2 separate regions of the Homo sapiens genome follow, and region 2 is linked to region 1. A link means that fine-mapping ties the variant in region 1 to the expression of a gene that starts in the linked region. Tissue or cell type: T cells. Region 1 holds a variant in brackets; the other region holds the start of a gene. All regions are shown on one strand. Distances are between the middles of the regions.

The links. PIP is the estimated chance that this variant, and not a neighbour inherited with it, causes the effect.
Region 2: it holds the start of OR4E1, and the variant in region 1 is fine-mapped to the expression of OR4E1 in T cells (GENCORD, PIP 0.95).

What each region holds. Positions count from the first base shown.
Region 1 is chr14:21,720,737-21,728,847 of GRCh38, reverse strand. It overlaps TRA and TRAV3. Among named protein-coding and RNA genes, the nearest start is that of OR4E1, 51 kb to the right of the region's middle. The variant T/C (reference allele first, on the strand shown) is at 4,989.
Region 2 is chr14:21,670,644-21,678,754 of GRCh38, reverse strand. OR4E1 (olfactory receptor family 4 subfamily E member 1) reads left to right here and starts at 4,937. Exons shown (of 2, transcript NM_001317107.2): 1 at 4,937-5,665; 2 at 7,803-8,111. The coding sequence starts at 7,820. It also overlaps TRA.

The DNA of each region.
Region 1 (8,111 bases):
CATTAATTAAGAGATGAGGCACATAGAGTAGAAATGGCATGTCCAATGTCACATAGTTACTTAGAGGAAGAATCAGAAACAACCTATGCTCCCTAATTCTTAATTCAGTTCTCTTTCCACAAAGTTCTTGAAGTGATATAAAAGGGGGGAGAAAAATAAACCTTATGAAGATAAGTTTTCCAGAATTTCTCATTTTTCCTGAAGTTTATCTGTTTATAAGGAGTATTTCCCAACAAACAGGAAAAAGGAATGCTAGACTAACTTTTCTTTAAGTCAAAACAGAACTTCTAAAAAGACATAGTTGTTCCCTCTGAGCCACCTTAAAAAAGGGGGAAAATATAGATTCTCATTTCCCTACATAACTCCCCTCCCATCACCACCACCACCAATCACTACCACATGACAAAAGATTAATATCTAAGGCTTAGCTTAACCTTGGAGAATTTTCCTGAGAAGGAAATCATCTTGAGAGTTGTATCTCTTTGACTAAGAAGTAGTTCTGTTTGGGTAGGGAAGTGATATGAACACGTGTGCAGCCTGGGGAATGACTGGAGGGAAAGATTTGTTCACCACTGCATCTGCAGGGATGATAACAATGCCAAGCACATAGTCAAAACTCCACAAATAATCATTGAGTGAATAAGTGAATAGCTAAATGAATAAATACATCATAATTGTATAGAAAGACTTCTTTCCTTTGCAGGACTTGCATAAATTGTATTTATAAGTATCAAAGGCAGAAACAGGCCACACAGCCAGGTCAATGGTGTAATGTGATAAAAATATCCCTGTGGACATGAACTTCCTTTGGAGTGAAAACAGTGATGGTGGCTGAGAGCTTACCTAGAGTTATGGCAACTGTATACTTAAATCTAAAACAGATACCATGGTTTCATGAATACAAATGTATTCTGGCAGTAATGGTACAGAACACTGCCACCCTTAGACCTGAGCAAGTGACGTCCCTGCTCAGAGTTCTGTGCCTCCACCCCAGCTATTATTCAGCTATTCTTATCCCTTTCCCTGTGAGAAAATCACAGGACAAAGGAGACATAGCCCTTTAGAGTCTAAATACCTCTTCTTGACCATATTCTGGGTACTAGGATTTCAGAATTCCCTGCACAAACATCCCCAAACACACTTTTAAGATCTGCATGGGCCTATCTCAAGGATTATCTTCCCAGAAGCAGATATCCCACCTGTGTACACAACTCTAGGCCCAATGGGTGGCCAAAAGATCACTGTTTGCCTGGACTGTAGACATGTGGGCTAAGGTGTCCACATCCTTGTGTATAAGGCTTCTCAAGGTATGTGATGGATTGAAGGATAGGAAAAGAAGGCTGGTAAATCACAAGGTACAAACCAAAGGCTGCAGGGTGAATCTCCCTAAAGCAGCACATTCTAGCACAAAACTATAAAAATCAAGAGTTCAAAAGTAGATCTGAGTATATCTAGGAATTTAATGTACTATAAATATGGTATTTCAAATCTATGGGGCAAAAGTGAATTTTTCAGGAGGTGGTGTAAGAACTACTGGCTATCCATTTGGGGGAAAAAATAAACAGATGTAGATCCCTGTGTAAAAATTAACTTATTTGGGGACATACTCCTTTTAACCAGGCAGTTCAAAATAGAGCTGCTAACTTGCAGAATCCTCACTCCCACCCCCAGCCACCAAAGGTGGAAGCCAAGCTGGGCTAATCCAAGCAGCCTGTACCCATGGCCACCACTGATTAGTCCAAGGAAAAGCCACCTAACTCACACTGAGTCAAACAGAGCCCTTCCCACGACACTCAAATTTGGGAAAAGATAAAGAGAGAAAAGTGCATTAAGTCCAGTTCCTCTCAAGAGCATAAGGAAGATGTGAACATAGGAACCGTAAGCAACTATCCTTATAAGAACTACACGTTTATACCCTTCCTTGATTCAAACTCTCCTCCCATTACAGACTGCTTCTGTCTTCTTTCACAGCTAAGCTATTCCTATATCCTCATCTCATAGAGCATTTTTTGAATTCTCTATCTTGGCACACACCAAACTGTTTAGAGTGTCAGTGTATTGTTCATTCATATAACCAACACTTTTCCGACAGCGACCCTTTCTGGAGTTAGGGCTACACCATCACCAAAATCAGTCTCTTGCCCCAAGAAGCCTATAGACTGGCAGAGGAGTGGAGTAGTTGGACCATGTGCCCTACAGACACACTGCCTGGGTTGCAATTTACCAGTTATTAACTTTGTGACTTGAGCAAGATACTTAAATTCTCTGTGACTTTGCTTCTTCATCTGTAAAGTGAAGCTGATGATAATACTTGTGAGAATTAAATGCGTTCATTAATGTTTGGAAACACACCTGGCACATAGAGATCAAAGATAGCTTCTTTCAATTCTTTTTTAAACTGACAAATAAAATTGTATATATGTATGGTATACAACATAATGTTTTGAAATATGTGTACATTGTGGAATGGCTAAATCAAGCTAATTAACGTCTGCATTACCTCACATACATATCCTTTTTGTGGTAAGAACACTTAAAATCTACTTTCAGCAATTTTTAGAAATTTCTGTTGCAGCTGGGCGCGGTGGCTCACGCCTGTAATCCCAGCACTTTGGGAGGCTGAGGCAGGCGAATCACAAGGTTAGGAGTTCGAGACCAGCCTGGCCAACATGGTAAAACCCCGTCTTTACTAAAAATACAAAAAAATAGCCAGGGTTAGTGACGGGCTCCTGTAATCTCAGCTACTTGGGAGGCTGAGGCAGGAGAATAGCTTGAACCTGGGATGTGGAGGTTGCAGTGAGCCGAGATCACTCCACTGCACTCCAGCCTGGGCAACAGAGTGAGACTCTGTCTCAAAAAAAAAAAAAAAATTCTGTTGCAAATACATTATTATTAGCTATAGTCACCATTGCAGTAGATATCTTGAACTTATTCTTCCTATCTAATTAAAATTTTGTGTCCTTTAACCAACATCTCTCCAATCCCTTTCCATTCCCCTCACAAGCCTCTGGTAACCACAATTCTATTCTGCTTCGATAAATTCAACCTTTTTATTACACAAATAAGTGAGATTATGTGGTATTTGTCTTTCTGTGCCTGGCTTATTTCACTTGACATAATGTCCTCCAGGCTCAATTGTGTTGTCACAAATGGCAGGATTTCTTCCTTTTATAAGACTGAATAGTATTTTATTGTGTTTATATGCCATGTTTTCTTTATCCATTCATCTAAGTATAGATACTTAGATTGATTCCATATCTTGGTTATTGTGAATAGTGCTGCAATAAACATGAGAGTGCAGATATCTCTTTAACATACTGATTTCATTTTCTTTGGATATATGCCCAATAGTGAGACTGCTGGATCATACAGTAGTTCTATTTTTGGTGTTTTGAGAAACCTCCCTACTGTTTTCCATAATGGTTGCACATTATGGAATTTACGTTCTTGCCAGCAGTGTGGAAGAGTTCCCTTCTCTTCACCTTCTCAACAATGGTTGTTATCTTTTGTCTTTTTGATAATAGCCAACCTAATAGGTTGTGAGGTGATATCTAATGGTGGTCTTAATTGCACGTTCCTGATAATTAATGATGTTGAGCATTTTTTATATACCTCTTGGCCATTTTTATGCCTTCATTTGAGAAACGACTATTCAGTTCCTTGGCCTATTTTTTAATCAGGTTATTTGGATGTTTTTGGTATGTGAGCTTCTTAAACATTTTGAATATTAACCCCTTATCAGATGTAGAGTTTGCAAATATTTCCTCCCATTCCATAGGCTTTCCCTTCACTCTATTTATTGTTTCTTTTGCTGTGCAGAAGCTTTTTAGTTTAATATAGCCCCATTTGTCTATTTTTGCTTTTGTTGCCTGTGCTTTTGGGGTCATATCCAAAAATTCCTTGCTCACAAGAGATGAAAAGCTTTCTCCTGGGTACTATGTTCACTCTTCGGGTGGCAGGATCAATAGATGCCCAAACCACAGCATCACACAATATGCTTTTGTAACAAACTTGGACGTGTATACCATGAACCTAATTTTTTAATGGTCTCAACAGGGTATGTAACATTGCAAAATTATTATGATGATGACATTTCACCTCGGTATAAAAAGAAATGTCTGTTGAAAATAAACCCCTTTTCAGAAAGAAAGAAAGAGAGAGAGGCAGGGAGGGAAGGAGGGAGGAAGGAAGGAAGGAAGGAAGGAAGGAAGGAAGGAAGGAAGGAAGGAAGGAACTTCTTGCCCAGACCAATGTCATGGTAATTTTCCCCTATGTTTTTTTCTATTTGTTTTACACTTCTTTCACCTTTTTATGACCGGTGCTTTGCCCAGTACCTGGCACATCAGGACTCAATAAACACTTGCTGAATGAGCAAATTCTATGGTTTTAAATTGTAGTTTAACATAATAAGTGACATATCCTGGAAGCACACCGTTCTCATGTGAAGGAACAAAGACTTCAAGAAAATGGGCTTTACCAGACTCAAGAGTTTGTGTTCTGCTCCCCCTGCAGCCCCTATCAGTGTGTGTCTCTCACAGCACAGAAGTACAAAGCGGAGTCGCTCACAAGGGCAGATGGTTTCTTCAGGTGGAAGGAGGTTTGGCTCTTGTTAAATTCAGCTTCAAAGCCATAGCTGCCTTTAACCAGGTTATCCCCTGTGATGTATTTCAGAAGGAACTGGAGGCCTCGGTTGGGGTATTGAACATACCAAAAAAGATAAGGGTTTCCAGAGACTGAATAGGTGCATTTCACAGTCAGAGGATTCCCTTCAGCAACGTTGACCTGATCTTCCGGCTGAGCCACTGACTGAGCTCTCAGCCCACCTGTAAATTAATCATGCTGCATCAGTGAAGCTGCTGGAGAGCATGTAAGTGGATCATGCGAGTGGAAAATGGGAAGGGGATATTACTCACTCAATGTGAAGAGCATCGCAAGCATCGAGATGGGTGCAGAGGCCATGGCTCCAGCTAAGCTCACGGCGGGCGGGA[T/C]TGGGGGGGTCCTTTCCAGCCCACCTCTGCTGGAGATATGGCCCCACCCCAGAGAGTGGGCTCTTGAAGAGGAACCAGCAACCCTGTGTCAGCACAGGGCTTTTGGAAATGGCCCTTCCTCAGGGCACTGGTGCTTCCCGACACCGGTATCTTCTCTCTGTGGAGCACAATTTTGATCCAGCTCCTCAAAGCTCTGTGAGGAGCAAGACTGCCGCTCCGCCTATGCCCAGGACAGACCTTACACTGCATCGCCCCCTAGAGCCCACACGTAGGACCAGCGACTTTACTGTCAAGCAGCTGGTGCTTCCTGGCCTTATCCCTGGGCCAACCTTTGGATGGTTACACGCTCCATGAGGGACATAGGGAGCAAATTAGGGGTTCAAAGGAGAAGAAATAGAAGTTTGTGAATCAAAGTGGAAAAGATTCAGGCTGAGTGGATCAAGCTGTAAATGATTTGTGCTCTCTTAAGATAATGTAGAGACAGAAAGAAGGGAAATAGGATGGGAAAATGCACAGAAAAAGAAAGGAAAATATAGCTTTGCATCAAGAGGGAGAGAAAAATTTAAAGTGAGAGATAAGAAAAAGCAAAATAGGAGAAAAGAGTAAGGCAAGAGAAGATAAATGACAGGCGAAAACAGGAGCCTTGCTCTTCTCGTTAGAAGTAATTCAGAGCTGGCTTCTGTGTAAACCTCTTTGACCAAAAATAACTCAGAATTTTCTCCACGTTGGGCCTATTAGGAGCCCATCCCATAATGATCTTTAGGGCAAAAAGAAACTTGAATCTTCTCTTTAAACATTTTTAGAGTGAGAAAAGTACGAATAGGTGTTATAAATATTTTTGGAGCATTTGTCATATTAAACAGTACATATAAAACAAAAAAATGAAACTCTGAGAAGGGGTTGCAAAACAGGTACTTTCCACATGCAGAGCCTACTTAAAACAGACTTCAAATGAAGTACGTATTCAGCAAAAAATGTATGGTTAACGAAACTTGATGTATTATGATGGGGAAAAGGGGTTCATTGGAAAGGGATGGCATGCTAAAGTTTTATACTAAAAAAAGGCAACAATAGCAACTGAGTGATTCTTTGATAGATTTTAATTTTAATGTAAAAAGCATGTATCAATATAAAGAAGTTGTTCCTCTGATTTGCCTTCTGTTTCTTTTGAATAGTGTCCAAATAATGTTCACTATATATTCTGAGGAAAGGATGAAAAATCTCTTTGCTTTGAATCAGAAAAAAAGTGGAACATAATTCTTTCTAAAAGCTTTGCTAAAGATCTCATATTTAATCATTGAAAACTTAGCCATATAATAATGTTTTTCTTTGGAATTGGTAAACTGTCTTTAAACAATAATCTTCAAGTTCCAGAGAGACTTGTCATAAATGGAAACATATAGTGAATTTCTTCTCTTTCTTCTCTCTCTGCCTCAAGCCTAAAATGAGTGTTAGTGTTGTCTTTTTGAGGGTCCTGGCAATCGCCTCGAGAAAATCATTGAAAAAAAGCTTAACAAAAAGAATATTTTTAAGTGTATGTGCAAAATTTAGGGAAAACTACAAGGGAAGGTGAAGCACCTGGGGCTAATAACAGCCAGAAGATTTCACCACTCCTAGGCCCAAAGGGACGGGAGAAGATGAAATTACCCTAATCTCAGGACACCTGTAACTAATCACAGGCCAAAGGCGACATGACCCTTTACAGTCTAAATACCTCTTCTTGACCATATTCTGGGTAGACCCAACAGGAGCTGTAAACTTCAGTAGAGGAAAGAAAGGATCCTAAAATGCAAATATCTTGACCACTCTCTCCTGCTAATACCTCCCACTGGGGTAAACCCAACCAGATGCCAATGGACATGGGAGACCAGTCCACATAACGTATAGAAGTCAGCCTCCTGGGGTACAGAGCAGGATATAATAGACCTGAAGAGGAAAATGGAGAAATGTCCAGCCCTCTGATGCTGGAGTTTATTGCTGCCCTACAAATGCATATACGGGCATAGCTATACTGCATTTTGACAAACATAAAAAGACAAATAAAATAAGTTTAAAACAATAGTCTAATATAGACTTTAGTACAGAGCAGGATAGAATAGACCTGAAGAGGAAAACAGAGACTGTCCAGCCTCCTGACACTGGAGTTTATTGCTGCCCTATAAACGCATATATGGGCATATATCAACATATGATATGATCAACATAAAAAAGCAAATAAAATAAGTTTAACTAAAACAGTAGTCTAGTGTAGACTTCAGTGCCTTGATTATTTTTCCAATCCCTACTTCCTCTGACCTCTACAGATACAGCACACAAGATTATGCCTAGATCGTGCAAGTGGCTGAGATATTGTTTGCCTTCATCCATTTAATAATTAATGCCAAGAGCCTCAAGTGAACTAAATATTTAGGAGACTGATATTTTTAATTTTGTGCTAGAAATGGTTGATTGTTTAGTGGTCTCCCCCTAAAGGATACTTATGGAAGGAACTAACCATATTTATTAATTAAGCATGTTCAGCTATAGAAAGAGGAAAGTTTTCCTCTGAATTTATGTCGTGGTTAGAAATGGGTAGTCATTTGCAATGACAGAACTGTTGCAGAATCCTTAATCATCTTCTTCTTAATCTTCTTCTTCTTCTCGTCTTCTTCATCTTCATTTTCTCCTTCTCCTCCTCCTCCTCCTCCTTCTTATTCTTCCTCAAAACTAGGACAGTTTAGTCTTCGTGTTTGCTTCCAGTTAAAGAACTGCCTTTTAACTGCTCAGCAGATAGAGAAGGATTCAGGGACCTCCACATAATGCACTGCACACAAAGTAACCAGCAGCACCCAAAGAATTCCATGGGCCTAGACTGAAATTTCAAAATTGAACAACATAGCCTCAGTAGCTATTCAGCTTATCTGCTTTGATTTCTGAGATTAATTAAGAAATTATTCATCAAATGTCGCCGTGAGCATAACATTAAACCCTTTACATTCTTTGTCACATTTACTCTTCCTAAGATGCCCCATTTTAGAGATGAGGGGACCACAGTTGAGGAAAATTGAATAATTTGCTCATCATCCTTAAGAAAAAGAACAAAGATTTTTAACCCATATTTTACCGACTTCAAAGGCATATTCC
Region 2 (8,111 bases), 50 kb after region 1:
ACAATCCTTTAACCCTCTAAACTAGGCAAAAATTTACATTCCCATGCCTTCTTATAATCTTTTGCCAAAAACACATTTTACTATCCTCACATACCCTGCACGTAAAACTATTTTTTTCAGTAATCTCAATCACATCTTATAATGGTAACTCAGCAACTTTTGCTTTTGGTGCACAGATTTCCTTTCACGAATCCTTTCATGACTTACACAGACTTTCATCTACAGTGTGCTTGGACTTTCTGACTTGTCCTAAACATCTCTCTTTTTAAATAACCATTATTTTACTTTAGGATAAGAATTTAACATACAGTATTCTTTCTTATATAAAAATATCTTTTCTTTATAACCTTCTTTGCATGGCTAAGGGGCATTGCTAATTCCACATGTCCCCAGGGCTTATCTAGAATCTAGTGTCTTCAAGGTAGGTAAATTGAACAATTTTCAAAAGTCAAAACAGTTCATGACCTTAAAGCATTTAATAAACCTAATATCTGACCTGCCTAATTTAGACCAAATGTCTTTATTTTACCAATAATCTTTAAAGCTGTTTTTATTTCCCAAAGATTACTAAAGTTACATGAGCTAAAAGACATTAGGATTTTTATCTTTCTTTCAAAATATTTGATTTAAGAGCTTATTTTTATGCCAATTAATTAGAGATCTTTTATATAAACATCATACACACAACACATACATAAATACACAGACAGAAGAAGATCCAGTAGTTATTAGATGTTTTATTTGCCAGTTTCTTAATTCTGGCCTTAGGGCAGAGCCCTTCAAGAAACAGGGCTAGGAAAACATGCAGTTTTTACAAAATCTAGAATCTTCAAAGGTAGCTCAAAGAAAGGAAAATTCAAGAAGGGAAGTCAGAAGTTGTTCATGGAGAGGAAGAGAATTAACAAATGATAAAGGTCACACAGATATCAACCAGAAAGTATGCATTTCCTAAGCCAGGATTGAATCCAAGCCACCACTGTGAAAGAACAAAATCTTAGCTACTGAGCTACAGCACTGGGAAGTCTCCACTGCCCATCCCAGAAGGAGTCTAGAGTAGTTAATTTTGAGCTTGCAAAGGCTTTTAACTACTCAAGATAATTTTTAGAGGTAACTATGACATGAACCCTAAAATTCCTTTTCCCTGGAAGGCAGAGAGCAAGAGAAAGTACCACCATATGGTCACAAGGTCAAGCTCCCAAAGACATAAAACAATATGGAGACCTTATCCAGTTTTTTTGTTTGTTTCAGGATCCTGCAGCAAAGTTTGTTACTGACCAGCTTGCTGGGCCATCTTGAGCAGTGGGCTTATGGGGTTTAAAGCCCATGTTCAATCCTATGGTACCCCTCTTTATGAAAGAATGATACAGAAGATGCATAAACATACCAGATTCGCTACAGCTTAAGACTAACCTCATAAATACTTTTTTCCATTAATCAAAACTTTGCAGAAGATAAACAGTGATTTTTTACCATTCATTTAACCAGTTTACACAGGGAAAGAGAGGCCAGAACTTTCCCAGTTTGCACAAGGAAAGAGAAGCACAGGGAAAGAGAGGCCAGAAACCTGACTGGTAAGAAATTCTTACACTTTTGCCAGCGTGTTAGGTTCCTGGGTTCCCCTTCCCTGAAACATACTATAGTGCCAGGGAGCCAACCACATACACAAAAAATCATGGAACCACAGGCAAAATTTTCTCACTGTTGCAGGATGCCACCCAAGGGGTTGCATAGGGTAATGAAATTAACATTTGGCATTCTGGACAGAGCAAAATACATGTGACAAAACATAGACATTAGCCACTCTGCTTAGCATGCAGTATTGAACTGGCAAGGCTCAAACTTGCCCCTGGTTGAGCCCTGTCATCTTTAATCCATTTTTAACCAAGAGGGACTTTACTGAGGGGAGGGCCTCCAATGCAATCCCATCCTTTACTCAGGTAAAATGTACCCCACTACTTACCCAAAGTCAGCCAATTGGTGCTGCAGTCTGTTTCCTTTGGATCAGGATAGTAACTAAACTAAACAGTTAGCAGATTTAATTTTGAGGAGCCCTTTTTTTGTTTTTTTTTTGTTTTTTTTTGAGACAGAGTCTTACTCTGTCGCCTGGGCTGGAGTGCAGTGGTGCGATCTCGGCTGAGGGCAAGCTCCGCCTCCCGGGTTCATGCGATTCTCCTGCCTCAGCCTCCCGAGTAGCTGGGACTACATGCGCCCGCCACTGCGCCCGGCTAATTTTTTGTATTTTTAGTAGAGACGGGGTTTCACCCTGGTCTTGATCTCCTGACCTCGTGATCCGCCCGCCTGGGCCTCCCAAAGTGCTGGGATTACAGGCCTGAGCCACGTGGAGGAGCCCTTATTTTTAAATACACTTCTATGTTGTTGTTTATTCAGAACATTCCACTGTAAATTATCTTTAGTAAGATTTCACCATTTCTCTAAGACTTTGCTGCTTCCCAGGCCTAATGTATAAGTTGGAAGGAATGTATATGTATGTATAATGTATGTATAATGTATAAGCTAGAAGGAACTCAGTTTTTCAGAAACTGAGAATCCCATTTTTACCTAAAATATTGGCGTGGCTCTAGGTTCCATTGATTAACTTAGCCAATGATCTTTCCTACCTAAGTGTGCAAGAAAAATGAAACAAAGGAGTAGAACACAAAAATCCTTGTGAATTTTTAAAAGCAAAATTTTATAACCCCTGCAATATTACCTCTTACTACCAGTTTCTTTCTGACCCAGTCAGAGGTAAGAGGCTTCTAACTGGATCCAAGCTAGTTAATTACCAGATCAAATTTGATCCTCAACCCGTCCAGTTTCTGTCATGACTTTCAAACCCAGTTTGGATCAGAAATTTGCTCAAAGAAACCTGGAGAGCTCAAAACATAAATCTGTGGAGCTCCGAAATCTGAGAGAGAACTTACCACAATCCCCAGCCATTCTGAGACATCAAAGGACACAAATACGTTCATCAGGTAACTTGCTTGTTGACTCAGCAATTTTGGAGGTTGTTAGAAGGTCTACTTCAGATCCCACTTCTGACACCATTTGTTAAAAGAAAAGCTTCAGCCAAATTAAATTTAAAGAAGTTTAATTGAGCAAAGTATCATTCGCAAATCAGGCAGCCCCCAGAATCAAAGCAAGATTCAGAGAGACTCCAGCACAGCCACATGGTGGAAGAAGATTTACAGACAAAAGAAAAGGGGAAATGAAGTACAGAAATCAGAAGTGAGGTATAGAAACAGCTGGATTGGTGCACCAGGTTGACATTTGCCTTATTTGAACACAGTTTGAACACTTAGCAGACTATGAGTGGTTGAAGTATGGCTGCTGGGATTGGCCAAAACTCAGCTACTGTTACAGGTGCATACTCCTAAGTTAGGTTTTCAATCTTGTCTGCCTATTAAGCTAGGTTACAGGTCATCCACAAGGACTCAAGTACAGAGTCCTTCTCAGGCCATATTTCATTTGTTTTAACAGATAATTAGTATGGCCAGCATATCCCTGTTCTTAATGTGTCCCCTGATTTCCAAGGCTATTACAATGACAATAGAAGTCCCACAGTGACCAAGTGGCAATATCTGTAAAGTTCTGGAAGCTACACCTTCTTCATTACAGCCAAGTCTGGACTTTGATCAGTGATAATGAATCAAACAAGAAAACTAGGGAAAAGAAGCCCAAGCCACAAGGCCTTAGGAGAAAGCATTTTCTGTAACTTCTGATATGTTCACTCTTATTACCATCTTCTCTTCTACTCACTGTCACATGGAGAGTTGGCTATAAGATTTATTTTATGCTCCATACCCTTTATTTAAGATATCCTAACCATCCCACAAAACTATTCAGTCTTGAAATTCAAACTGAAAGTATAATCTTCATACCTCTCCTTTGGAGTCTTGTTTCACCAATTTAAACCACCAAGCTCATCTATCTAAAGAGAGAAAGCAAAAAGAAAATTGGAACAAGAGGTTCTAAATTTTCACTGTTATCCAAAATAATGAAAAAATGAAGCCAAAAATGTTGACTGGTAGTGATGGTCGGCTGTTTTTTTGTTTGTTTGAATTGCATTTAACATAATTATATTAATATGCTAAGAGCTACATGCTTTACAAATATTTCAAGAGTTCTAAAAAGTTTTACTATTACTATTCAAGCTTACGGATGGGAAATCTAAGGACCAGAGAAGCTAAATAACTTGCTCCAATTAGCACGTGTAGGACATTGGAATTTGCACCCAATCTGCTCTAGAGTCAAAGCACTTAATCTCTCTGTCAGAAAGCTGACTAAAATCTTAACCTCGGCTGGGCGCAGTAGCTCATGCCTGTAATTCCAGCACTTTGGAAGGCCGAGGCAGGCGGATCACGAGGTCAGGAGATCAAGACCATCCTGGCTAACACGGTGAAACCCCGTCTCTACTAAAAATACAAAAAAAATTAGCCGGGCAAGGTAGCAGGCACCCGTAGTCCCAGCTACACAGGAGGCTGAGGCAGGAGAATGGCGTAAACCTGGGGAACGGCGCCTGCAGTGAGCAGAGATCGCGCCACTGTACTCTAGCCTGGGTGACAGAGTGAGACTCCATCTCAAAAAAAAAAAAAAATCTTAACTTCATTACCCTTCTCTCATCTCTGTATTTTTATATGAGTTAAATAAGAAAACATGAAAGCCTATTACCTAATACTTAGCACATAGTAGGCAATCACTAAATAGTAGTTAATCTAACCATATATAAATACATCCTAAAGATTTAGGTATTTAAGTACTGCTTTTCTCATTTAATTCTCTTGGTGATTATTGCAAAGTCTGTAACTTCATTCCCCACAGAATTAACTTTTCTTAACTAGTGAGTAGGGCAAGCTGATGTCATTGCTTAAAAGTTCCCAAGGACATAAAGCCTATATAATGTAGGTAGAACAACACCAACACTACAGCTGCCAGCGCTTCTTTCTCTACAGATTCCCCTTCAGTACTTGAAGGTGGAATAATCCACCTGAAACTGGCAATACAAAACTTGCACCTAAACAGTGTGCTGCAAAGGAAATAGGATGCTTCTGCCGCACTGGTTTTCTGAATAATTAGATCAAGTTTTGTGTTAGAAGTGTCCTAATAAACCTGAAGGGCCTGCAAAAGTGGCTGACTCTTTTTTTTTTTTTTTTTTTTTGGACAGGGTCGTTGTGTTGCTCAGGATGGAGTGCAGTGGTAAAATCACGGCTCACTGCAGCCTTGACCTCCTGGGTTCAAGAAATCCTCCTGCCTCAGCCTCCTGAGCAGCTGGAACCACAGGTATAAGCCAACATGCCCAGCTAATTTTTTGTATTTTTTGTAGAGACGGGGTTTCGCCATGTTGCCCGGGCTTGACTGTGGCTTTTAATCTCCTCTACTCACCACTACAATCTGGAAAAGTGAAAACATATATATTATTTCTGTACTACATTTTCTGTTAACTGGAAACCAATCCTAGAAAATCTTGGTGCAGAATTACATATTTTGACATATTGAAAAATATGATAATAATATAGCTACAAAGGTGTGATTTTTACAGACAGCCTGAAATAGTACCTTTTACCAGAAAATATCGCCAAATACATCTACTGTGACATCACCAAAACTGTGAACAAGACCTAAGGAGGGAACTTCAAGGGCTCTCACCTTTCTTATTGGAGAAAGCAAGGTAAATGGGGTTATCTGACTAGTCCAACTTCAAATAAGTTGTTATTTCTACTGGAAGATAAAAGTCTTGATATTGAAAGTGCAGGACTGACACTTCTGTTACTTTTGGAGGTACTAAGAGCATCAGAAACAACCCAGGTGACTTTTATAGATATTTTAGTTGGATTTTATATCTGTTCTTAATCATCTTTCCCCATTTCCTTGAAATGTATGCAAAAAACACTAGGTTTTCTTCTTGTGCACCATATTCTTTCTACTGCAGTTGAACACATCTCCATTTTGCAAAGCATTTTTTTCCTGTGGCTCCACAGAAATAGAAAAAAATGATAATTATGGAAAAAGTTTAGTTTAAAATGTATATCCATATTCTATGAGGGGAGAACAGAAGCCTTCATTTCAGACCTAGTTCTTGGTCTGCACACCCTCTTCAGTCTGTGCAGGTGAAATTTCCCATACTGAATAAAATCCTAGCCCCATTCTTGGTCAGCTCTTCGGCTTTGAATTTTGCGACCATGAAAACAAGTGTAAATCAGTAACACTTAAAATCACTTCTTGGAGCAAAAGCTTCAAACGAATACTCGAAGAAAAATTTCTAAACAGTAAAATCAATCAATAGCTACATTTAGATGCTGCTGTAAATATTAATCCAAACACTGGACACAGTGAGTTTAATTTTTAAGTGTTAACTGAAGGACTTCTCTGGCCCCAAAAATATCTTCTTTGCCACATTTCACAAGCAGTGTGGGGTTGACTCATTAGTCTGCCAGGGAGCCTGATCTTGAGGGATGATATAAATCTCCAGTAGTCACTTGTGATAGGAAGGAAGTAGCAAGGATCATGGGGCCCAAGCAACCAAGAGAGACAGCTTCCTTGGGTGGGCCACCCCTGGAAGGCTGTGTGTGTCAGGGCAGCAGCATGAAGGAGGAAAGCTAGAAAAGAGAGATTCCTCATAGTCCCCCTAACCCTGCCCCACAATCTGACTCAGGACACCAAGGAGAGGAAGAGAGAGGCCACTAAGACATATTCTGCTTCACTCCCTGATTCTACCAACTACCACAAAAATTCAGATGAGAGTGGTGGTAGAGCGGACGAAGCCTGAACCAAGAGTCGGGAGACCTGAGCTCTAGACCCAGCTGTGACTCCAGTTCCGTGTAACCTTGGACCAGTTGATTTGACTCTCTGTGCCTCATTTTCTCTATTTGTAAAATGAAAAAAAAATAGATTATGTCAACTCTCAAGTCCCTTTAAGGGCTAAAATCCTGTGACTATAATGCATATGCTCGTTATTTTAAAAAATAGTGGTGCTTGAGTCATAGGCTAATTTAAAAGAAAATAACTATTTTTATTTCACTTGTGGGCCAGTAAGACAACAGAACGGGACTTTGAAAAGAGCTAGAGTGATCTAATCAAGACAGTAATGTTATTAGGCTTGGATCTTGACTCCCAGTTTAAGAATAAGTCTGCCCTCAGCTGAGGGGTGGAGGAGAGGTCAACTTCCACATTTTCCAAGGCTTCCAGGGTTTTATCCTGCCTTCTCTAAACAATTGTTCAAGAACATCACAGCCACGTTGCCAATTGTCCAGTAGCTTGGTACAAAGCTTCTGCCCTCTGAAAGTTATGTCATGGAAATTACAGTCTCAGAGCCCCATGGCAAAGCCAACAGCTGAGCAAGTGGTTTGGGTTGATGAAAAGTGCAGTCTGCAGGACTATTAAAAAAAAAAGCTATGTTCAGGGACCATATTTGTGTAGCCTTGAACAAATTATGTATTTGAGTTAAAGAGAATCTTAACTTCTTCTCCTGTAAAAATCCATAACCTAAATCTAAACATTGATATCCTACTACATTAATGGAGAAATAACTTGTTTGGTCTTTCCCTCTCTCTCTCCCTCTTCAAGATTGTTTTATATCTCTTAATGAATGAAGATTCTCTATTTTATTATTCCAAAAGTGTATGTTAAGTACCTACTATGGGTGTATCATCATGTAAGATGTTAATGGGGATTTTTAAAAGAAATGCAAGATATTTTACCATAAATTCTAGATGGAGAGAAAAGGCATAAACACACAAGAAATTAAATGACCAAATGATTGATGCAGATACTGTGTTATATTAGACTTTTTTTCTAATTCTTTACAGGTTGTCTAACAAAGAGAATGGAAGAGGCCATCCTACTCAATCAAACTTCTTTAGTGACATATTTTCGGCTTAGAGGTTTATCTGTAAATCATAAGGCACGGATAGCTATGTTTTCCATGTTCCTCATTTTTTATGTCCTGACACTGATTGGGAATGTTCTCATTGTCATAACTATTATCTATGACCACCGGCTCCATACTCCCATGTATTTCTTCCTCAGCAACCTGTCCTTTATTGATGTCTGCCACTCCACTGTCACTGTCCCCAAGATGCTGAGAGACGTGTGGTCAGAGGAAAAGCTCATCTCTT